Regions from separate parts of the Homo sapiens genome. Here all the other regions are linked to region 1. The links come from fine-mapping of genetic effects on gene expression. A gene starts in region 1. Each other region holds a variant in brackets. All regions are shown on one strand. Distances are between the middles of the regions.

What was found. PIP is the estimated chance that this variant, and not a neighbour inherited with it, causes the effect.
Region 2: its variant is fine-mapped to the expression of NMRAL1 in Th17 cells (Schmiedel 2018, PIP 0.95).
Region 3: its variant is fine-mapped to the expression of NMRAL1 in whole blood (TOPMed, PIP above 0.99).

What each region holds. Positions count from the first base shown.
Region 1 is chr16:4,471,220-4,479,398 of GRCh38, forward strand. It overlaps NMRAL1 (NmrA like redox sensor 1), which reads right to left and starts at 3,406. Exons shown (of 6, transcript NM_020677.6): 1 at 3,335-3,406; 2 at 2,874-2,947. The coding sequence starts at 2,913. HMOX2 (heme oxygenase 2) reads left to right here and starts at 5,179. Exons shown (of 6, transcript NM_002134.4): 1 at 5,179-5,268. It overlaps LOC124903636 (a long non-coding RNA gene), which reads right to left. Exons shown (of 3, transcript XR_007064964.1): 3 at 8,045-8,179. RefSeq lists an enhancer at 4,975-5,476.
Region 2 is chr16:4,806,908-4,815,086 of GRCh38, forward strand. It overlaps GLYR1 (glyoxylate reductase 1 homolog), which reads right to left. Exons shown (of 16, transcript NM_032569.4): 11 at 7,630-7,740; 12 at 6,830-6,931; 13 at 5,179-5,341; 14 at 4,716-4,895; 15 at 4,263-4,387. Among named protein-coding and RNA genes, the nearest start is that of ROGDI, 8.4 kb to the left of the region's middle. The variant G/A (reference allele first, on the strand shown) is at 3,644.
Region 3 is chr16:4,523,397-4,531,575 of GRCh38, forward strand. The region is part of intron 1 of CDIP1 (cell death inducing p53 target 1); the gene reads right to left. Among named protein-coding and RNA genes, the nearest start is that of CDIP1, 11 kb to the right of the region's middle. RefSeq lists enhancers at 5,683-6,335, 6,336-6,987. The variant G/A (reference allele first, on the strand shown) is at 3,672.

The DNA.
Region 1 (8,179 bases):
ACAAAGAAAAATAGTTAACAGAAAGGAATACAAAAACTTATTCAGATCTCGATGGAGCTTGAGTCACACAGGCATGCGCATCGGTCAGATGTACCCTTAAGATTTTGCGCGTTGCAGCTGGGCCCAGGGGCTCATGCCTGTAATCCAGACACTTTGGGAGGCTGAGGCACGCAGATCTCTTGAGCTCAGGAGTTTGAGACCAGCCTGGGCAACATGGTGAAACCATATCTCTACAAAAAAAAACCAAAAATTAGCTGGGCGTGGTGGCATGTGCCTGTAGTCCCAGCTACCAGGGAGGCTGAGGCTGGAGGAAAGCCTGAACCCAGGAGGTTGAGGCTGCAGTGAGCCGTGATCACACCACTGCACGCCAGCCTGGGTAACAGAGTAAGGCCCTGTCTCCAAAAAAAAAAAAAAAAAAAAATTCTTTATTATATGTATATTTTACCTCATAATTAAAAATAATCTATAAACAAATACTGAATTCTAGCTAATGTTATGCATGCTTTAGTATGGAAGGGCGGTGTACACATATCTGCAATTTACACAGAAATGCATCAAAAATAAGGACTGAGGCCGGGCACAGTAGCTCATAGCTGTAATCTAAGCACTTTGGGAGGGTAAGGGGGATGGGTTTTGCTTGAGGCCAGGAGTTTGAGACCAGCCTAGGCAGCAGGGTGAGACCCAGTCTCTACAAAAAATTAAAAAATCAGCTGGGCCTGTTAGCGCTCATCTGAAGTCCCAGCTACTCAGGCGAATGAGTCAGGAGGATTGCTTGAGGCTTGGAAGTCAAAGCTGTAGTGAGTGATGATTGAGCCACTGCACTCCAGCCTGGGCAACAGAGCAAGACCCTGACTCAGAAAAAAGTGTACACCAATGTTCCATGGCAGCATTATTCATAATAGCCAAAAAGTGGAAATAAATCAAGTATCCATCCACTGACGAATGGACAAACAGAATATAGTCTATCCATACGGTGGAATATTACTCAGCCATAAAAATAAGTAAAGCTGTCAGGAGTTCGAGACCAGCCTGACCAACATGGTGAAACCCCGTCTCTACTAAAAAATACAAAATTAGCTGGGTGTGGTGGTGCACACCTGTAATCCCAGCTACTTGGGAGGCTGAGGCAGGAGAATTGCTTGAACCCGGGAGGCAGAGGTTGCAGCGAGCAGAGATCACACCATTGCACTCCAGCCTGGGCAACAAGAGAGAAACTCTGTCTTAAAAATAAAAAAGTAAAGTTGGCCGGGCGCGGTGGCTCAAGCCTCTAATCCCAGCACTTTAGGAAGCTGAAGTGGGCAGATCACCTGAGGTCAGGAGTTTGAGACCAGCCTGGCCACATGGCAAAACCCCATCTCTATTAAAAATACAAAAATTAGCCAGGCATGGTGGCTCACGCCTGTAGTCCCTGCTACTCAGGAGGGTGAGACAGGAGAATCGCTTGAACCCGAGTGGCAGAAGTTGCAGTGAGCAGAGATCACGCCACTGCACTGCTGCCTGGGCAACAGAGCGGGACTCTGTCTCAAAAAAAAAAAAAAAAAGAGTAAAGCCCGGACACACACTACAACATGAACAAACCTTGAAAACATGCTAACTGAAGAAGCCAGAGAGAAAAGGCTACATATTATGATTTTATTCATATGAAATGTCCCGAATAGACAAATCCATAGAAACCAAAAGTAGATTGGAGCTTTCTAGGGGTTGGCTGGGAGGAGTAAGAATGGGGAGTAACTGTTCACGGGTTCATGGAGTTCTTTTTTTTTTTTTTTTTTTTGAGATCAGGTCTCACTCTGTTGCCCAGGCTGGAGTGCAGTGGCACAATCAGGTCACTGCAGCCTTGACCTGCTGGACTCAGGTGATCCTCCCACCTCAACCTCCTAGGTAGCTATAGGTGCATGACACCACGCCCCACTAATTTTTGTATTTTTTTGTAGAGACGAGATTTTGCCCTGTTGTTCAGGCTGGTCTCAAACACCTCAGCTCAAGCGATCTGCCCATTTGGTCCAACTAAAGTGCTGGGATTACAGGGTTGAGCCACTGCACCTGGGCCAGAGTTTCTTTTTGGAGTGATGGAAATTTTCTAAAATTGATTGTGGTGATGGTTGTACAATTCTATGAATACACTAGAAACCAGTGAGTTGCACACTTTAAACAGGTAGATTGTATAGTACGTGAATTATATCTCAATAAAGCTGTTAGAGATATTAAATATGTATAAATAAGAAAAAATAGGAATGAAATAATATGCTATCATTTGAAAAAATGATAACATGTTATCTACTCTGGCAGGATATTCAAGAAACTTGGTAACAGCAATAGATGAGGTGGAAGAGGAGGCTAGGAAGAAGATTTAATTTTGGTATCATGTTCAAGTACTCCTATTCAAATAAGTTAAGTAACTCATTTTTTTTTAATTTGGAAAGCAGGTCTGGCGTGGTGGTTCATGCCTGTAATACCTGCACTTTGGGAGGCCGAGGCGGGTCATCACCTGAGGTCAGGAGTTTGAGACCAGCCTGACCAATATGATGAAACCCCGTCTCTACTAAAAATACAAAAATTAGCCGGGCGTGGTGGCATGCCCTTGTAATCCCAGCTACTCGGGAGGCTGAGACAGGAGAATCGCTTCAACCCGGGAGGCAAAGGTTGCAATGAGCCGAGATCGTGCCATCGCACTGCAGCCTGGGTGACAGAGCAAAACTCCGTCCAAAAAAAAAAAAATTGGAAAGCAATTTGGGCCTCGTTCCTGCGACCACAGCCCCAACCTGGGTCGGGGGTCCCAGTGACCTTACCCCTCCCTGCAGACCCCAGGACGGGCGGTCTTCAGGGCTAGGCGCCCTGGCTCTGCAAGGGCCCCAGTCTGGGGTTTGGCTCACCTGTGCCTCCGAAAACCACCACCAGTTTCTTGTCCACCATGAGGACGAGAATGGGACGAATCCGGTCCAGAGATCTGGGGGTAATGGGAGGCGTGGAGTTGGGGGTGGGGCCGGGGTTCCCGCCAGGAGCGACAAAGGACACCCCCATTGTCTATGCATCGAGTATGTGTCGAAGGGGGCGGCTGGGCCCGGAGCGGCAAGACGCCTGTCCCGAGATATCGGGGTCCCGCGACCCACCTCGTGTCCCTTGGGCCCGATCCCCTCCTCCTTCCCGCCTCCCCCGGTTCCAGTCACCCGCCCCCCGGCCCGGGTCCCACCGGCTGGAGTGACCTCCTCGCCGCGGCCTGGGCGGGACAAGTTCCAGGAGCCCGGGACCCCGATTCTGCGGCCGAGTCCACTGCAGAGGCGGGGATGGAGCTGCGCGCTAGGCGCCAACTCCCTCCCCGCAGCTCCGGCCCCACCTGGCAGAGCGCCGCTCACGGAAGCCCAGCGTCGGAGGACCCCTGGCTGCAGCCGCCAATCCCGACGTGTCGGCCGAAACCCCTCCTCCGGCGCAGTTGGCTCCTCCTGGATCCCGCGGGACTCGGCGTCGTTTCCGGGTTTGCCCGCCCCAGGCACGTGCACAGTGAGTTTGTGTAAATCCAGTTAGACCAAAATGAGCGAGGTGGAGAGCCTCTTAACCGGATGCTACGGGTGATGACTGGGAGGAGGAGAAAAATTACCTCTTTATCTTGCATGAACATCTTAATTTTCAGGTATTGGGCGTCAGGCAAAGATAATTAAAGCTATGTCCATGAGTCTTATCCCTTGAGGCCTTGTCCGCTTGATATTTTCTTTGCCTAACTCACTTTTAAAATTTTATTATTTTTATTTTTTTGAGACAGTGTCTTGGTCCGTCGCCCAGGCTGGTGTGCAGTGGCGCGATCTCGGCTTACTGCAACCTCCGCCCCCCGGGTTCAAGAGATTCTCCTGCCTCAGCCTCCCGAGTAGCTGGGATTACAAGCATGTGCCACCAAGCCCGGCTAATTTTTGTATTTTTTAGTAGAGACGGGGTTTCACCAGGTTGACCAGGCAGGTCTCGAACTCCTGACTTAAAGTGATCCACCCACCTCAGCCTCCCAAAGTGCTGGGAGTACAGGTGGGAGCCACCGTGCCCAGCCCTAACTCACTTCTGAAGTTGCTGCTACTTGCACTGATTTCAGTTTTTTTTTGTTTTTGTTTTTTGTTTTCAAGGTGGAGTCTTGCTCTGTGGCCCAGGCTGGAGTGCAGTGGTGGTGCGATCTTGGCTCACTGCAACTTCCGCCTCTTGGGTTCAAGTGATTCTCCTGCCTCAGTTTCCTGAGTAGCTGGGATTACAGGCAGGAGCCACCATGCCCGGCTAAAATTTTTTTGTATTTTTGGTAGAGACGGGGTTTCAACATGCTGGCCAGGCTGGTCTCGAACTGCTGACCTCAAGTGATCTTCCCGCCTCAGGCTCCCAAAGTGCTGGGATTACAGACATGAGCCACCACACCCGGCCCACGATTTCAGTAATTTCTTTGTGTTCAGTAAAACTAAAAAATGACTCTGGGCTGGGTGCGGTGGCCTGTAATTGCAGTGATTTGGGAGGCCGAGGCGGGTGGATCACCTGAGCTCAGGAGTTCGAGACCAGCCTGGCCAACATGGTGAAACCCCCGTCTCTACTAAAAATACAAAAATTAGCCGGGCGTGGTGGCAGGCGCTTGTAATCCCAGCTATTCGGGAGGTTAAGGCAGGAGAATCGCTTGAACCCGGGAGAAGGGGGTTGCAGTGAGCCGAGATCACGTCATTGCACTCCAGCCTGGGCGACGAGCAAAACTCGGTCTCAAAAAAAGAAAAATCATTCTGTCATTCTGGCCGCTGTTTGAAGAATGCGAATAATGCAACAGGGAGATCAGATACAAGACTGGTAACCGAGGTGTCAGAGTTGAGACTCAGTTTCGCAGATTGCATTGGCAAGTGACCAAGTGGGTGGTGCCACGGTTGACAACCCTATTTCTTACATCACTGAGTGGATGTACAAGGATTAAACCACACTGGGGAAGAAAAGTGCTCAACCCTGAGGCACCCTCACACACCTCGGCTCTTGTGAACACTAGTGTTCCTGCCGAAGCACGCCTACTTACCCCGCTGAGCAGAGCCTGAGCCTGCAACCTCCAGAGACCTGGGGAAAGCCACATACTCCGCTTCCCGCCCCCGGCAAGGGCGTGTCAGCTACAAGGGGCGTGTCATCTCTAGGCCCCGCCCCGCGCTGCGTGCCCACGTTGCGCCGGCCTCGCGCCAGTCCGCTGGGCTGCAGGGACTGCGGCGCCTGAGGGAGTCGCTGACGGGCACGCTGACTGGAGGCTGGCGGACAGGCGACAGCGACCTGCGGCAGGTGAGCTGTCCGCGCCCTCCCGGGGCCTTCCTTCCGCCCGGCTTCTCGGACCGCGCTGCGTCCTTCGCGGGCCCTGCCTCGGTCCAGGCCTTCGGACCTGGGCTTGGCCGGGCCACAGCCCTTTGGGTCCCCTGCGCCGGTCTGAGGGGAGACCCGGCCGGGGGCGGCCGGAAGCTGGGTGAGGCCGGGCAGAAGGACGAAGAAGGGCGTGGAGGGGCTGTCAGGGGAGGGCGAAACCGCGGACGCCGCTCTCCAGAAGTCGTCTCCCCGGGGGCGCGGGGAGGCCTGAATGGCTCTCTTTGGCGTCCCCGTTGGGCCCACCCTCTCCCAGCGTCACGGCTATGCTGGGCGAGGTGACCCCCGGGGTCGTAGCTGGGGGCGTCGGCGGTGCAGACAGGGGATGCCGGCAGAGATTGGAGCCCGGCTTGGCTGTTTCCCGGGCTGTTGGCATTGACCGGGGCTCTGCCCTTCCTCTAATGCCCTTATCTCTATAGGAAGTGCCCCTTGAGTGGGTGTCGTGACTTCACGAGTGAACCCTGGTACGCCCTGGAGCAGAGTCGGACTGGGAGGGATCAAGTGTGGGGGCAGCCGGTTAGTCCGGACGCGGGTTTACCTATTACTTTCTGAGCGCAGTGCTCTGGGTGGATTAATTGCCCTGCAAAAGCTGCCGGGACCTCCTTGCAGTCTTTGCACGAGGCCTGCCTGTGTCATGCCATTTAAATCGCGTCTGGGCCGGGTCGGTGGCTCACGCCTGTAATTCCAGCACTTTGGGAGGCCAGGGCGGGCGGATTGCTTGAGGTCAGGAGTCCGAGACCAGCCTGGCCAACATAGTGAAACCCCGTCTCTACTAAAAATACAAAAATCAGCCGGGCATGGTAACGTGAGCCTGTAGCTCCAGCTACTTAGGAGGCTGAGGCAGGAGAATCGCTTGAACCCGGGAGGCAGAGGTTGCAGTGAGCCGAGATCACGCCATTGCACTCCAGCCTGGGCGACAGAGCAAGACTCCATCTAAAAAAAAAAAAAAAAAAAAAAAAAATCGCTTCTGATGAGCCGGTTGTCGTGGCCTGTGGCTGTCCATCCTTACGTACTGTGTTTTGTTGATGGCGCTACAAACCAGACAAGGTGGAGTGTGATTGAAGAAAGAAACGCTGGCCGGTGCAGTGGCTCACTCCTGTAATCCCAGCACTTTGGGAGGCCGAGGCAGGCGGATCACCTGAGGTCAGGAGTTCGAGATCAGCCTGGCCAACATGGTGAAACCCCGTCTCTACTAAAAATACAAAAAAGTTAAACGGGCGGGGTGGCGCGTGTCTGTAATCCCAGCTACTGGGGAGTTTGAGGTTGGAGGATCACTTGAGCCCACGAAGTGGAGATTGCAGTGAGCTGAGATCGCATCACTGCACTCCAGCCTGGGTGACAGAGTGAGACCCTGTCTCAAAAAAGAAAAAAATAAATTATCACAAGACAAAATTTGTGCTTATCAGGAGTTCACAGTTAAGACATATATAAGCTTACTTGGTGAAATTAGAAAAAGTTATCAGATAAAACATTCAGGTTTAAACACTGGTGAGGGTGTGGGAATTTGTGGAGCCTTGGAAACACACTCATTGAATGACCTCATCTACCTGGGGATGTGAAGAGGGAAATCCTGTGATTCCTCCATTGTCTGACTTGATTTCCTTTTTTCCTTGGCTGTGGCAACATGTTGAAGTGCTGTGAGTCACCAAAAGGGGGAACGTGAGCAACTCTAGAAATGCCAGTGCCAGTGAGTTACAGACAATAAAGCATTGACCGCCTTTAGCTCACCCCTCATCAAGTCTGTTGAAAACTTGTAAAATTGGACAGCTAGAGCTACCTTGATTTTTTGGTTTCCTTTTAACAGCTGACTCTCTTCACAGGACAGTTGGGCTCTACATCAGGATTGCACCCAAAACTGGAATATCACTCCTCCAGGAGGAAGATATATTTGAAAATTAGAATTGTGGGCCCGGTGCAGTGGCTCATGCTTGTGATCCCAGCACTTTGGGAGGCCGAGATGGGCGGATCACCTGAGGTCGGGAGATAGAGACCAGCCTGACCAACATGGAAAAACCCCATCTCTACTAAGAAAAAAATAATAATAATACAAAAATTAGCTGGGCATGGTGGTGTGTGCCTGTAATCCGAGCTACTTGGGAGGCCGAGGCAGGAGAATCACTTGAACCTGGGAGGCAGAGGTTGCGATGAGCCAAGATTGTGCCACTGCATTCCAGCCTGGGCAACAGGAGCAAAACTGCATCTCAAAAAAAAAAAAAAGAAAGAAAGAAAATTAGAATTGTGTATTTCACTGTAAAATTTGAAATTCAGCTTTAACTCCTTGGAAAGGAAAGAGATGAAAAACTTGACCTAGACTGGGTGCGGTGGCTCACGCCTGTAATCCCAGCACTTTGGGAGACCAAGGCGGGTGGATCACCTGAGGTCAGGAGTTCGAGACCAGCCTGGCTAACATTGTGAAACCCCGTCTCTACTAAAAATACAAAAATTAGCCTTGCAAAAAGTAGCCTGTAATCCCAGCTACTCGGGAGGCTGAGCAAGGAGAATTGCTTGAACCTGGGAGGCAGAGGTTTCAGTGAGCCAAGATCATGCCATTGCACTCCAGCCTGGGCGACAAGAGCAAAACTTCATCTCAAAGAAAAAAAAATTCTATCAGAGTGAACAATAAGTAGGATGCTAGCACATACCTGTAATCTCAGCTACTTGGGAGGCTGAGGCAGGAAGTTAATACTTGATGAGCCTAAGTTTTTGGTGTCTTTGGATGCTGCTTGTCGATCTAAGGGGTTTCCAAACGCTTCTTTTTTGGTAAAATTGGGATTATGACTAGGAATCTGTTTTTTGGAGTTTCCCAGGTGATCCTTGTTTGGGGTCCTTGTCTAAG
Region 2 (8,179 bases), 340 kb after region 1:
GCCATTCTCCTGCTTCAGCCTCCCGAGTAGCTGGGACTACAGGCGCCCGCCACCACGCCTGGCTAATTTTTTGTATTTTTAGTAGAGACAGGGTTTCACCCTGTTAGCCAGGATGGTCTTGATCTCCTGACCTCGTGATCCACCCGCCTCGGCCTCCCAAAGTGCTGGGATTACAGGCGTGAGCCACTGCGCCTGGCCCCTTTTTTTTTTTTTTTTTTTTTTGAGACGGAGTCTTGGTCTGTCGCCCAGGCTGGAGTGCAATGGCACGATCTCGGCTCACTGCAACCTCCGCCTCCTGGGTTCAAGTGATTCTCCTGTCCCAGCCTCCGGAGTAGCTGGCATTAATAGTGCCCGCCACTATGCCCGGCTAATTTTTGGTATTTTTAGTAGAGACTGGGCTTCACTATATTGGCCAGGCTGATCTCGAACTCCTGACCTCAGGTGATCTGCCCGCCTCAGCCTCCCAAAGTGTTGAGATTATAGGTGTCAGCCACCGTGCCCAGCTGAAACTGGAATTCTAAAAAGAAAGTAAGAAAGGAGGAACAAACAAAAGACAAAGACAACGAACAGAAATCAAATGATAAAATGGCAGCCCCAAATTGAACCACATATCAATACAACTACTAAAGGTCAATGCACCAGTTAACCTTCAGAACCTAACCTCTGAACTCCTAACAGTATAGAGTCTAAGCTCATACCATCCAAACGACCTGAAAGCAGCGAGCTGCATTGAGAAATTAACCTAAAAACTCTGCTTCCAAGCCAATGAATCCTGTAGTCAGGGTGGAGGCAACTTGGAAGTCACTTCAAAGAGAAGCTTTCCCAGCCCAAGCCACATGAAACCCTTGGGAAATAACTATAGTCAGAAATGAGCTTTCATCAAAAAAGACTTATAAAATACACAACGAATTCTACTATCCAGAGAGAATCCACTGGTAGAATGAACAGGGGGGACTTGAAATAGTAATGTAATCTGAAAGAGTCATGAAATAAGTACTCTGAAATGTTGAAACAGACAAGAGACAGAAGACAGAATTTAGGAACAAGGCTGCATGCGGTGGCTCATGCCTGTAATCCCAGCACTTTGGGAGGCCAAGGCAGGCGGATTACTTGAGGCCAGGAGTTCGAGTCCAGCCTGGTCAAAATGGTAAAACCCTGTCTCTACTACAAATACAAAAATTAGCCAAGTGTGGCGGTGCATGCCTGCGGTTCCAGCTACTTGGGAGGCTGAGGCAGGAGAATCACTTTAACCCAAGAGGTGGGGGCTGCAGTGAACTGAGATCATGTCACTGCACTCCAGCCTGGGCAACAGAGTGAGACTCTGTCTCAAAAAAAAAAAAAAAAAAAAATACAATTCAGGAACAGAGAATTATACTATGAAAAGCCAGGTGTCAAAAGAACAGTACTGGCTGGGTGCCATGGCTCACGCCTGTAATCCCAGCACTTAGGTAGGCTGAGGTGGGTGGATCACCTGAGGTCAGGAGTTTGAGACCAACCTGGCCAACATGGTGAAACCGTATCTCTACTAAAAATACAAAAAGTTAGCCAGGAGTACTGGCAGGCACCTGTAATCCCAGCTACTGTGGAGGCTGAGGCAGGAGAATCACTTGAACCCAGGAGGCAGAGGTTGCAGTGAGCCGAGATTACACCATTGCACTCCAGCTTGGGCAACAAGGGTGAAACTCGGTCTCTAAAATAAAATAAAATAAAATAAAATAACATAAAATAAAAGTGTATCAGCTGATAGTACTTTAAAAATACAGCTGCTGTTTCACAAAGTGTCATTTTTATTATAATAATATGGTAAAGACAAATGTTTTTCAGTTGTTTTTTTTTTAGATTCAAATTCTATGAAGATGAGCTAAGAAAGCGGAACTTCTACCCTAAAAAGCTTTTCGAAAGTGTATGTGAAGTTGGATACAGTTGTGCACGCCTATAGTCCCAGCTACTCGGGAGGCTGAGGTGGGAGGATTGCTTGAGCCTAGGAAGTCAAGGCTGCAGTGAGCTATAATTGTGCCACTGCACTTTACCTGGGCAAGAGAGTGAGACTGTGTCTCAAATATAAAAAAAGTGCACGTGTTAAGTGCTTAAAACATCATTTGAAAAATGCTAATAGACATGCTAATTAAAAGGCAGATACTGTCAAAATGGATAAAAATCCAAACCCCAATTACATACTGTCTATCAAAGCCATAATTTAGACATAAATAAGAGAGGAAATGGATGGAAAAATATACATACCATGAAAACAATAAGCCTGAGAAGGCTGTAGCAGCTTTCGTTTTTTTTTTTTTTTTTTTGCGATGGAGTCTCACTCTGTTGCCCAGGCTGGAGTGCAGTGGTGCGATCTAGGCTCACTGCAACCTCCCGCCTCCCAGGTTCAAGCAATTCTCTGCCTCAGCCTCCTGAGTAGCTGAGATTAAAGGTGCCTGCCACCATGCCCAGCTAATTTTTTGTATTTTTAGTAGAGATAGGGGTTTCAACATCTTGGTCAGGAGAATGAGACCATCCTGGCTAACACAGTGGAACCCCGTCTTTACTAAAAATACAAAAAATTAGCCAGGCATGGTGGCAGGCGCCTGCAGTCCCAGCTACTCAGGAGGGTGAGGCAGGAGAATGGAGTGAACCCGGGAGACGAAGCTTGCAGTGAGCCGAGATCGTGCCACTGTACTCCAGCTTGGGTGACAGAGCGAAACTCCGTCTCAAAAAAAAAAAAAAAAAAAATCATACAGGCAGCTGGTTGTGGTGGTTCATGCCTGTCATCCCAGCACTTTGGGAGGCTGAGGTGGACGGATCACCTGAGGTCAGCAGTTCAAGCCCAGCCTGGCCAACATGGTGAAACCTCATCTCTACTAAAAATACAAAAATCAGTTGTGTATGGTGGTGTGTGCCTGTAATCCCAGCTACTCAAGAGGCTGAGGCATGAGAATCGCTTGAACTTGGGAGGCAGAGGTTGCGGTGAGCCGAGATCGCGACACTGCACTCCAGCCTGGGCGAAAGAGCAAAACTCTGTCTCCAAAAAAAACAAAAAAACAAAAAACAAAAAAACAAAAAAAACCCAATACAGGGCAGGGCATGTTCTTTGATCATAGAGCAGTAAGTTAAAAATCAATAATCATTAGATATCTAGGAAAACCCAAACACTAGATAAACTTTTAAGTAATTCATGGATCAAAGAAGAAATCAGAAAACAAATTAACACGGATTAGTGGACATTTAAAGATTTATATACTCATGTTATAAAGAAAGCAGGATTAAAATAAATGATTTAAGATTCCACTTTAAAGGGTTTGAAAAAGAACAAAGAGGCCAGACACAGTGGCTCACACCTGTAATCCCAGCACTTTGAGAGGCTGAGGCAGGTGGCTCTCCTGAGGTCAGGAGTTGGAGAACAGCCTAGCCAACATGGCAAAACCCCATCTCTACTAAAAATACAAAAATTAGCAGGGCGGGTTGGGGCACGCCTGTAATCCCAGGCTACTTGGGAGGCTACTTGGGAGGCAGAGGCACAAAAATCTATTGAACCCAGGAGGCAGAGGCTGCAGTGAGCTGAGATCACACCACTGCACTCCAGCCTGGGCGACAGAGTGAGACTCTGTCTCAAAAAAAAGAAAAAGAACAAAGAAAAGCTAAACTAAGTAGA[G/A]GGAAGGAAACGATAAAAGAAAAAGAAACTTGGCCAGGTGTAGTGGCTCACACCTGTAATCCCAGCACTTTGGGAGGCCGAGGCGGGCAGATCACGAGGTCAGGAGATCGAGACCATCCTGGCTAACATGGTGAAACCCTGTCTCTACTAAAAAAAAAAAAAAAAAAAAAAAAAAAAAAAAAATTAGCCGGGCGTGGTGGCAAGAGCCTGAGGCGACAGAGCAAGACTCTGTCTCAAAATAAAAGAAAAAGAAAAAGAAAAAGAAACTGAATGGCTGGGCGTGGTAGCTCATGCCTGTAATCCCAGCACTCTGGGAGGCAGAGGCGGGTGGATCACCTGAGGTCAGGAGTTCGAGACCAGCCTGAACAACAAGGAGAAACCCCATCTCTGCTAAAAATACAAAAATTAGCTAGGCATGGTGGTGGGCACCTATAATCCCAACTACTCAGGAGGCTGAGGCAGGAGAATTGCTTGAAACCAGGAGGCGGAGGTTGCATTGAGCTGAGATCGCACCAGTGCACTCTAGCCTGGGTGACAGAGTGAGACTCCGTTAAAAAAAAAAAAAAAAGAAAGAAAAAGAAACTGAAGGGCCTTGGGGCTTGGGCCACATCTACCCTACCTCATTTGCTGCAGCTGCCATGGGAGTCGGATGGTTGACCGCATCACCCAGCGCAATGGCTAAGCGGAGATCCTTCTGAATGTATTTCAGGTAGAAATCAGGCTTAAAGTTTCCTTGCAGGATATCTGAGGAGAAAAAGCCAGTATCAGACAAAAGCCAAGGACCTGAAACTAAAAACTACTTACGGTCCACCAGGTGTCAGTACCTAAAACATACTCAGGGCTCAGTTCCACATAGCCTAGGCCTCTTGGCTCCTCACTCACCCTTAGACACCTGAGGGCTGCAGCTCCCAGCCTATATCCCCAAATCCCGCCCACTGTGTTTCTGAACCTCCTCTGGCCAGGGTCAGGGACTGACTGGGGAGGGGCATCTTTCACGCTCACTAAATCCCTGACCTAGTACCCTGCTCTAATCAAACACCAAATGCAAGAAGAGGGGCCAAAAACAACTCACTTTGGCACTTCTGGTCCAGGAAGATGCTGGCCAACTGTCCCTGATTGAGGATGTCCAAGAGTGTCTGCTGGGACTGGCCTGTCACCTGGGCCAGGGTCAGCCCCTCGGCAATAGTGGCCATGAAGCTCCCTTGGACCATGTTCACGATCAGCATCATCTTGGCTGCATTGCCCACTTCACCTGCCCAGGGTAAAGACTCACGGTCACAGCCCAAGAATGCCACAGACAGGGCTTCTCTGTCCACCCTCACCTCTGCTCAGACCCACCTCTCTCCAGGGGAGGCCCCCTTCACCTGCCCCCGACAGACTGGCTCTTCCTCCTTCCACGCACTGACTATGCAGGTGAAAGGAAACCTTCCCCAGGGTCCCCGGCAGAAAGGCCGTGTGGGACTGACGCTGTCATCAGTGTGAAACAGAGGAGATGTGGCCCCAGGCTCCAGGCCTGACAGGTGCAGGCGTGTTACCTAGGAAGAAGGAGGTCTTCCCCATCGCCTGGAAGCAGCTGCTGCAGTCCTCATATAAGCCCCTGTCTCCAGCCGCTAAGATCACCAACATCCCGTCATTAGACAGCTGCTGATTCCCTGAGACGGGGGCTTCCAGAAAGCGCCCCCCCCTGGACACAATCACCTGGAAAGAAAAGTCACAGCTTCTGGAGGCCTCCCCTCTCCCAGCGCTCTCTGGGCAGGACTCAAGGAGTGTTGCTGAGTGGCCACGGCTGCTCATCACCTTCCAGAGCTGGAGGGGACGGCCACCCATACCAAGGTCCTTTAGCTGACACCTAAACTCAGGAGCTAACCATGTGCAGGTCACACAGGCCGAATCACAGCAGTGATGAGACGCTGGGGTCTCCACACAGGAACCCAACTGACTTGGAATTTTTTTTTTTTTTTTGAGGTGGAGTCTCGCTGTCGCCCAGGCTGGAGTGCAGTGGAGCGATCTCGGATCACTGCAAGCTCCGCCTCGCGGGTTCATGCCATTCTCCTGCCTCAGCCTCCCGAGTAACTGGGACTACAGGCGTCCACCACCACGCCTGGCTAATTTTTTGTATTTTTAGTAGAGACAGGTTTCACCATATTAGCCAGGATTGTCTTGATCTCCTGACCTTGTGATCCGCCCGCCTCGGCCTCCCAAAGTGCTTGGATTACAGGAGTGAGCCACCACGCCTGGCCGGAATTTTTTTGTTTTGTTTTTTTGAGACAGAGTCTTGCTCTGTTGCCCAGGCTGGAGTGCAGTGGCGCAATCTCAGCTCACTGCAAACTCTGCCTCCCGGGTTCATGCCATTCTCCTGCATCAGCCTCCTCAGTAGCTGGGACTACAGGCAACCGCCACCATGCCTGGCTAATTTTTTTTTTTTTTTTTGAGACGGAGTCTTGCTCTGTTGCCCAGGCTGGAGTGCAGTGGCACGATCACAGCTCACTGCAAGCTCCGCCTCCTGGGTTCATGCCGCTCTCCTGCCTCAGCCTCCCAAGTAGCTGGGACTACAGGTGCCCGCCACCGCGTCCGGCTAATTTTTTTGTATTTTTAGTAGAGATGGGGTTTCACCGTGTTAGCCAGGATGGTCTCGATCTCCTGACCTCGTGATCCGCCCACCTCGGCCTCCCAAAGTGCTGGGATTACAGGCGTGAGCCACCGCGCCCGGACTGGAATTTCTTAGAGACCAACAACTAGAACCAGATGTGACCATGTCAATGGCTCGGCTGAACACACACCTCCCCTGTGGATGCTGCCCTCCCCTCAGAACATATGTGGGTCCCAAAGTCCCCACTCCCTTATTTGGGCCAGATGCTCGGGGAGGAGGGATGCTTTGCCAGTGTCAAATGCAGACAGCTGCTCAAACCCCAATGCCAGGCGGGCGGCCTGGGTTGCTTCTCATCATAAGGCTGGCAGCTCCAGGACTTGATGCCCATCCCAGCCATGCAGCGACTGCCCATGGCTGTTCAGACTAGCTGCGGTTTGAAGGTGGAGCACGGGATAGGCTAGTCCCAAGGCTACTCGCCTCTCCTCTTCCCTCTCTGGCTTTGGCTCTAGAGTAACTTAACTGCCCACTCTTGTAAGCCTGGGTCTTGGGCTCTGATAGAAAAGATGCTGGAGAGCCAGCCCAAGGAAGGCTGCTACCTGGGCCAGCTCAGTGACGGTGTCAGCGTCCACTGTTGACATGTCCACGTAGCACTTCCCAGGGCGGATCCCTTGCAGCACACCACTGGGGCCCAGCACCAGCTGTGGGGACACAAGGGAGAAGCAATAGCCCAGGCTCCCGGGCAGATGCTCAGGAGCCCTACAGACCTCAGATCAGAATCCTGCTGCTGTTTTGGCTCATTTCCTGATTTCTATCAGCTGAAAAGGGAAGAACAATGAAATAAGCAAGGGATAGAAAAGTACTTCCCGCATGCTCCCATTTATCTTTAAAAAGAATCTATGTGAGTGTGTGCATTTCTTTTTATTTAAAAAAAAAAAAAAACAAACCCCATTTAAAAGAATAAACCTCAGCATTTACTTTGGGGACTTCTTTGGATTTACTTGGATTAGGCTAGTCACCAGTTTAATAAGATGACTACCACACTTGAACTTCTAAAATATACAAATACAGTGACAGCTAAACATAGAAGCTTGGCACCTGGACCAAAGGCACATTCAGTTCCAAAGCTTCTAGTTCAACAAGAACACATGAAGCCTGTTCAAGACACATTTCAGCACAGACTTCAAGGGCCCTAGTAGTGTTCATTCTTTGATCTGAATTAAAGGAAGTCTGTATTCAATTAATGCAAACACCCTTCACAATGGGAGATGGCCCCTGATGGGAAATTCAGCCCCCCACATGTGGACACTCACTTGGTGTGCAGGGGAGGAGGGGAAGAGGCCAGCCAGCAATCCTGGCTGTGACCCGGAGTTGCTGAGGGGAGGGAGGGGGTCCTTACGTCCTTGGCCGCCTTGGGATCCGACACGCAGGCGAAAGTGATGTCGCAGGTTGAGACGACTTCAGCGGGGGTTCTTCCCAGACGGGCCCCCTCCTGGATGAACAAATCACACTGCAAAAGTCACAGATCCTAACGTGAGCTGCAGGCAGTGCACAACAAACATGCCAGCCAGGCCAGAGAATTGCTGACCAGGCCTCCTGGCGGCCTACCAAGGCAGGAGGCTGAGGCCGGGAGCCTGGGTCATGGAGATAGGAGCCCAACTTTTGGGGAAGTGCACGGGGCCTTTTACTGGCCATCTTCAGTTTTTGCATGACGAGTGCCTAGGATGATGAACTGCTTCACAAGTGTCTGCTGAAGGTATGCTGTTTCAAGAATGGGGTATGAACAGTAGCACCTCTCCCCAGCCCCCGCTGTGCTGTCCTGGCTGTGGCCCTGAGCTATCAACACTCTGCTGGGAATGTGGGGATGTCGCTGGAAGCCTTCCACCTGGTGGCCATTCGTTTTTGGGTTGTTTCTCAACACTGTTGTCAGGTTAATAAGACTTCTGGAA
Region 3 (8,179 bases), 52 kb after region 1:
CCAGCTACTTAGGAGGCTGAGGTAGGAGAATCACTTGAACCCAGGAGGCGGAGGTTGTAGTGAGCCAAGATCGCGCCACTGCACTCTAACCTGGCGACAGAGCGGGACTCCATCTCAAAGAAAGAAAAAAAAAGACATGTCCCTGCCTTCCAGAAGCTTACGGTCAAGTGAAGAGGATGAGCGTTAAATAATCACCCCCCTCGCCAAAAAACCACAAACACAATTACATCTGTGACCAGTGGTATCGAGAAAGTCCAGGGCACAGTAGAAGGACAGCAAGATCGCCGTTCTGGAGCTCTAACACCATCTCTTCAAGCAAACCTGGGAGGAGGTGGCGGAAGAGTTAATGAGACCAGCAGGCAAAGGGAGGGATGGGGACAGCAGAGGGAACAGTGAGTACACAAGGCCTAAGGAAGGAGGGATGTGCCCCTGAGGGTGGCCAGATGGCAGCCTGGGGCCCTCACAGCGACCCAGCCACAGGGTTTGTTCCAGAGCTCAAATACCTCAGATCTCCAGGACAAGGATGACAAGGCCAGCTGGACAGTGTCCCAGGCCCTTCTCCTCAGGCTTTAGGCTTCCCCAGGAGACCTCCGGCACCATTCAGCCTTGTTGCATTGTGGCACTTGGAAACAAAGACAGCGGTCTTCTTTGCTTGACTGTCAATAGAATATTGGGAGAGCACAGGTCTCCCTGGGACCCTGCCTCGCCGCTGATGGCCTGCAGCCCTAGACAAATTCCTCAACCTCTCTGAGCCTCAGTTTCCCCACGTGCAAAATGAGGTTCTTGGAAGGCTGAACAAAATCCCACATGTAGATGTCCAGGCTGTATTGCTGGAGACGCCTTCCATGAATTACTACGCAGATACCACCACCCATACAGAGCTGTGCTGTGCTCCTCCACATCACACTGCAAAGGAAGAAGGCAGAATAACAAGATCTCAAACAGCAATGTTCCGCCTAATGAAGTACAGACTGGAGATTGCCAGCTGCACCCAAATCCACTCTCTCCCCCATTCTTGAATACAGAACTCCACTTTCACTCAGGGCAAGTCCATCAACCAAGAGGGTCCCCGAGCTTTCTTAGAGTGACAAAGCTTTGGCTAATGAGCTGTAAGCAGAAGTGTCCAGACCATAAGAAGGCATTCAGGGCAAGCCGACTCAGCCCGGAGCCAGGCCCTTCATCTTTCCTGCCTTCCTCCCATCTACCACCTGGAAGATAGATGCCATGGCTCCAGTAGCTGTGCTTCACCATGAGGGCCTTGGGATGGAGGCCAGTGCCTAGGACAGCCATGGGACACCACACCAGCAACTAACTGACCACCTCCCACATCTTCCACATGAGTAATAAAACTTGGTTTACTGGTTAATTATTGGTAAATTATTTTCAGGTTAAGTATTAACAAGTGTCATTACAAATATACAGCACAGACAGGTGCAGTGGCTCACACCTGTAATTCCAGCACTTTGGATGCCAAGGTGGGAGGACTGCTTAAAGCTAGGAGTTCAAGACCAGCCTGGGCAACATAACAAGATCCCATCTCTACAAAAAAATAAAATTAGCCAGGTATGGTGATAGACACCTGTGGTCCCAGCTACTTGGGAGGCTGAGGCGGGAGGATTGTTCTAGCCCAGGGATTCTAGGCTACAAAGAGCTATGTCACGCCAATGCACTCTAGCCTGGGCAACAGAGTGAGACTCTATCCCCCCTCCACCACAAAAATATATCTCTACAGTTCCTTAGGTCTGAAGGAACACAAGTTCTCTTCAAGTGATCCATGATCAAAAGGATCATGGCTTTCTTTAGGTCACATGACACAGCCTCAGCCAGTACAGAGGCCAAGGCATGGGGAATACTCCCTGGCGGGAAGGCTGGAGCAGATGCTTCCGTAGTTAAAACAGGCCCCGAGAGAAGTGCAGCTGGTTGCCTTGGAGCGAGGACACATTCTTCTGCAACTCCAGTGCTCATTTCAGCATGAGCACTGGCTCAAGGAGGAGCTGAGGAGGACGATGGCGTGCAGTGAACGTTAATAGAGCATGCACTGTTTGGATGCAGGTGCCCAGCACAGGGACATGAAGGAAGTGCTCCAAGTGAGGAGGTGCTCAAAAGGGAGCCCCTGCTGTGAGACTGCTCCTGGGCCCCAAACCCTCTCCACTCCCCTCTCCACCATGCCCTATCCAAACCTGGGGCTAATCCAGCCACCCAAGTCCATGTGGGACCAGGCCAGGATTCCCTGTGGCCTTTCGCAGCTGACCAGAGGGACCCTATTCCCAACGCTGGGTGATGAGCAGGAAAGAGGAGGCCCTCCACAAAGGTCCACTCAGTTGCAGAGCAGCCTCTAGTGAGGCTGAGCCCTCCCAAGACTCAGGGAGGTTGCCAATGTGTCCCCTTCTCTGGGACCGTTGTCCTCGGCTGCCAAGTTCTAGCACAGGCAGGCCTGGAAAATCCTGAACATGGCCCATTTCCCATTGTCCTGATGGAGGCAGGACGAGACAGTCCCTCCCTCAGATAACATCGCGGGTGGCTCTGAACCATTTATTTATTTTTACACTTGAAGATGGGTGTATCTGATGCCTTGGGAATTCTAAACACTTCAAAACAAGCTCAACTTAAGTCACAGAAAGGACCAGAAAACAGATCTGGTTTTCCCATCTGCCAGCTCTCCTCCCACCCAACCCTACATGCTCCTCCTCGACCATGATGAGTCTCAGCGGAAATAAGACACCAGCCTAGCCAGGCACGGTGGCTCATGCCTGTAATTACGGCACTTTGGGAGGCAGAGGTGGGCGGATCACGAGGGCAGAAGTTCAAGACCAGGCTGGCCAACATGGTGAAACTCTGTTTGTACAAAAAATACAAAAATTAGCTGGGCATGATGGCATCCGCCTGTAATCCCAGCTACTCGGGAGGCTGAGGCAGGAGAATTACTTGAACCCAGGAGGCGGAGGTTGCAGTGAGCCGAGATCACACCGTCGCACTCCAGCCCGGGCAATAGTCTGAGAATCTGTCTCAAAATATAAAAAATAGCTGGTCACGGTGGCTCACACCTGTAATCCCAGCACTTTGGGAGGCCAAGGCAGGCGGATCACAGATCAGGAGATTGAGGCCATCCTGGCTAACATGGTGAAAACCTGTCTCTACTAAAAATACAAAAAAATTAGCCAGGCATGATGGCGGGCGCCTGCAGTCCCATCTACTCAGGAGGCTGAGGCAGGAGAATGGTGCAAACCCGGGAGGCGGAGCTTGCAGTGAGCTGAGATCGCGCCACTACACTCCAGCCTGGGCAACAGAGTGAGACTCCATCTCAAAAAAAAAAAGATAAATAAAAATAAAATAAAAAATAAAATAAAAATAAAATTAAAAATAAAATAAAAAAGACATCAGCCCAACCCCATGGCCCCAAACACCACTGCGCCCTCCAACAGAAGCATGAGCCCTGTGTCGCAGGCAGAGCTGCAGGGGCAGAATCTTGCACCGAGTGGGGCACAGGCATCAGGCCCCACGCCCACCACCCTGCCCTGCCACCTGACTCTCCAGTCTCAGATTTTTTTTCATCTGTGATATGGCGGTAGGAGCAGCCCCTTATCAAGAATTGTGATGAGTCACGGGAGAGGCCATGGGTGAAGAGCACACCACTGAAGGCCTGCCACAGGAGCCTGAGAGAGGAAGTACAC[G/A]AGAAAAAAGAAGACACTGTTACTTTTTTTTTTTTTTTTAGACGGAGTCTCGCACTGTCGCCCAGGCTGGAGTGCAGTGGCGGGATCTTGGCTCACTGCAAGCTCCGCCTCCTGGGTTCACACCATTCTCCTGCCTCAGCCTCCCGAGTAGCTGGGACTACAGGCGCCCGCCAACACGCCTGGGTAATTTTTTGTATTTTTAGTAGAGACGGGGTTTCACCGTGTTAGCCAGGGTGGTCTTGATCTCATGATCTCGTGATCCACCTGCCTCGGCCTCCCAAAGTGCTGCGATTACAGGCAAGTGCCACCGCACCCGGTGACACTGTTGCTCTTAAGCAGAAGCAAAATCAAAAGGCAGACAGGACTCAAAGAATGGTTCTAAACCTAAAAGTACTAAGGCCTCTAGGAACTATGATGATGACAATTACTGTGCAATTTATATCATGCTGAATTTTAGTAAAACCTCCTGGCAAACCACTCTCACTTGGTGACACTCCGTCCACAGCACGGGGCCACAGCATAGTGGATCAGTACAACTTTCCTGGACAGCCTTGCTACCTGTACACTCTTATGGACTCAATTCCACTTCAATGTATTCGTTCTAGAGGTAAATGGACATGTGAACACAGATTCACAGGCAAAGATGTTTATATGCACCACTGTCTTGATGTTCAAGAAAATGGAACTGGTTACATGCATGTGATTAGCTATATAATGTAACTGTATTCAGCCCCTAAAAAATGATATAGTTTTGTTTTTGTTTTTTGAGATGGAGTCTCGCTCTTGTTGCCCAGGCTGGAATGCAATGGTGCAGTCTAGGCTCACTGCGACCTCCGCCTCCCGGGTTCAAGTAATTCTTCTGCCTCAGCCTCCTGAATAACAAGGATTACACGCACCCGCCACTAAGCCTGGCTAATTTTTGTATTTTAGTAGAGATGGGGTTTCACCATGTTGGCCAGGCTGGTGTCGAACTCTTGACCTCAGGTGATTTTGCCCACCTTGGCCTCTCAAAGTGCTGGAATTACAAGCATGAGCCACCATGCCTGGCCAATGATATAGATTTTTATTGACATAGAAAAATGGTTTTAATATAGCAGTGAGTGAAGAATAAAAAAGCAGTAGCACAGTGTGATTCTTCTTTAGATGTATTTACATACGTAACACATTTTTTGTCTTTGTTTTTTCCTTTTTGTGGAGAACAGCGTCCTGATATATTGCCCAGGCAGGTCTCGAACTCCTGAGCTCAAGCTATCCTCCAGCCTCTGCCTCGCTAAGAGCTGGGATTACAGGCGTGAGCCACTGCACTCTTCCATAACACATATTAACAGTTTTTCTGGGCAGTAGGAGTTTAGGGGATTTGTTTATATGTAAGTACACATACAGAAACGTTCTACTGATGTGGAGTTTCTAGTTTTTTAATGGTAGGCAGCACCTTTACATGACTCCTTCCTCAAAATGCTCATTATAAGTCAGACACAGTGGCTCACGCCTATAATCCCAGTTACTTGGGGGGCTGAAGAGGGAGGAACACTCAACCCAGGAGGTGGAGGCTGCAGTAAGCCATGATTGCACCGCTGCACTCTAGCATGGACAACAGTGGGGAAGAACCCTGTCTCAAAAAAAAAAAAAAAAAAAAAAAGGCTGGCCGCGGTGGCTCACACCTATAATCCCAGCACTTTGGGAGGCTGAGGCACGCAGATCACCTGAGGTCAGGAGTTCGAGACCAGCCTGGCCAACATGGTGAAACCCCATCTCTACTAAAAATACAAAAATTAGCCAGGCGTGGTGGCGCATGCCTGTAATTCCAGCTACTTGGGAGGCTGAGGCAAAAGAATTACTTGAACCCAGGAGGCAGAGGTTGCAGTAAGCTGAGGTCGCATCATTGTACTCCAGGCCGGGCAACAAGAGCGAAACTCCATCTCAAAAAAATATATATATACTACTCCTCATACTCCTCAATCCAGAAACACACCTCAGACTATAATCTAATTTCACCTACAGGAGAAAATGCTCTGCAGAGCAAGCCAGAGGCCTGGACTGGTTAGTGGCCTCCTCTCCAAAGCCAGCCCCTTATGGCCATAGGTCTCCCATGAGTTTGGTCAAATGAGTCAGTTCTGCCAGATCACCTCCCGGTACTCCAGGCAAATGGAAAGTTTAGATCTGTAAAGTTGGAATGTAATGACCTCACAGTCCTGCTAGCCTAGGAGACCCCGCCAGGAGACCCAGCAGGAGGTCACCTGACCAAAGAGGGCTGGTAAGAAAGTCCCCGTTGGATGCATAATAAAAACGAGTGATAGAGCCCATGCTGAGGACACAGCCCCGGCCTCCCAACTCGCCCAGTGATCTCGCCAGGACTCTGAACTACCTCCCAGGCAGAACGCTGCTCAAGAGCTTGTTCCTGCATGCTCTCCTGCTAGCAGAGAAAATGAAGGAAGCACAGACAGGAGGGGAAATGCAGAGCAAAAGGAAAAAATCAGACACAGCTCAACCACAAGTGAATAAACAAGTCATCTGCACCTGTCCCACAGGCAGGCCTTGGTAACTACAAGGCTGACTAATTTTAGAAACAGCATGAACCTAAAGAACCATCATTTAAGTGCTCAAAATGGAGCCCTTAAAAAAAATCCTTCTGTCTGCCTGTACTGAGCAGACACAAAATGGACAGTCTTGGGTTGACTCTATTCAACCAGCTGTCTGTTGGATGAGATCAAGACACACCACTGCAACCTACAAAAAAGCACCAGGCCGTTAAGTGCAGTCAAGACACGTGGCCACTCACGGCCACCCAGGTGGAAGAGTCTTAATTCAGACACAAATGTCTCCTGGCCGTCCTTAGCCAGGGAGCTGGGCTCTGCCCGCGGCCAGGTCTTGCCTGAGTCCCCCTATTCCGTGGGTCGGGGTGGGATGTGGAAAAGCAAACCTCTAGGCTTTCTTCCTCCAAATGTGTCAGTCACCATACATACCTGTACACAGAAGCTCCCCCTCCAGCAATTTTCCCTCAGAACAGTGAGGACAGTGGCTCATCCCTGCGACATTTAGATCTCTCATGTTACAGGGCATTCTTTCAATTATTTTGAAGACATTTCTGATGGGTGAAGAAAGCGCTCTAGGAACTGAGAGTGGGAATCTAATTTGTATTTTACACTACATTAGATGCAACAGTATATAGCATATGGAAATTAGTTAACTGAGTTTCTATCACTCTTAGTTGGCATCTGACCCTAAGAATTCACTTACATTGGTTGGGTGTGAAACAAACTGAATTAGTAGTTTACACTGCATTATATGAAACAGTATATAGACTGGGTGCAGTGGCTCACGCCTGTAATCCCAGCACTTTGGGAGGCTGAGGCAGTCGGATCACTTGAGGTCGGGAGTTCGAAACCAGCCCGACCAACATGGAGAAACCCCATCTCTACTAGAAATACAAAATTAGCCGGGCGTGGTGGCACATGCCTGTAATCCCAGCTACTCGGGAGGCTGAGGCAGGAGAATCACTTGAACCCACGAGGTGGAGCTTGCAGTGAGCCGAGATTGCGCCAGTACACTCCAGCCTGGGCGACAGAGTGAGACTCCATCTCAAAAAAAAAAAACAAAAACAAAAAAAACAGAAATAGTATACAGTAGGCCAGGCACTGTGGCTCAGGACTGTAATCTCAGCACTTTGGGAAGTCAAGGCAGGAGGATCACTTGAGACCAGGAGTTCAAAGCTGCAGTGAACTGAGTGCGCCACTGAACTCCACCTGGGCAACAAAGCAAGACTCTGCCTCAAAAAAAAAGAAAGAAATAGTATATAGAAGTTTATTAGGTTGGTACAAAAGTAATTGCAGTTTTTGCCTAAGTTCCTGTAACTCTAAGTCAACATCTGGCCCTGAGTTCACTCATGCTGGCTGGGACAGAAGACTTATTCTGGAAGCTTGGGAAAACAGGAGCTCACGTCATGATTGGGACTGCCATCTGCTTGGCCATGTATATATTTCTCTATGACTCAGACATCAGAGACCAGGCTGGAGTGCAGTGGCGTGATCTCGGCTCATTGCAACCTCCACCTCCCAGGTTCACGCAATTCTCATGCCTCAGCCTCCCAAGTAGCTGGGACTACAGGCGCCTGCCACCACACCCAGCTAGTTTTTTGTATTTTTAGTACAGATGGGGTTTCACCGTGTTAGCCAGGATGGTCTCGATCTCCCGACCTCGTGATCCGCCTACCTCGGCCTCCCAAAGTGCTGGGATTACAGGTGTGAGGCACTGTGCCCGGCCTTTTTTTTTTGTATTTTTAGAGACGGGGTTTCGCCATGTTTGCCATGGTCTCAAACTCCTGACCTCAAGTGATCCTTCTGCCTCAGCCTCCCAAAGTGCTAAGATTATAGGTGTGAGTGTCTGCTCCTGGCCAGAGAACACCTTTTGGAGGTTGCAAGGCCATCAGAGATGACTGGGTCCAAGTCTAAGCTGCCATTCATTTCTGTCTTAAATGTTTACTAAGCACCCATGGAAGACAGGTGCCCTGT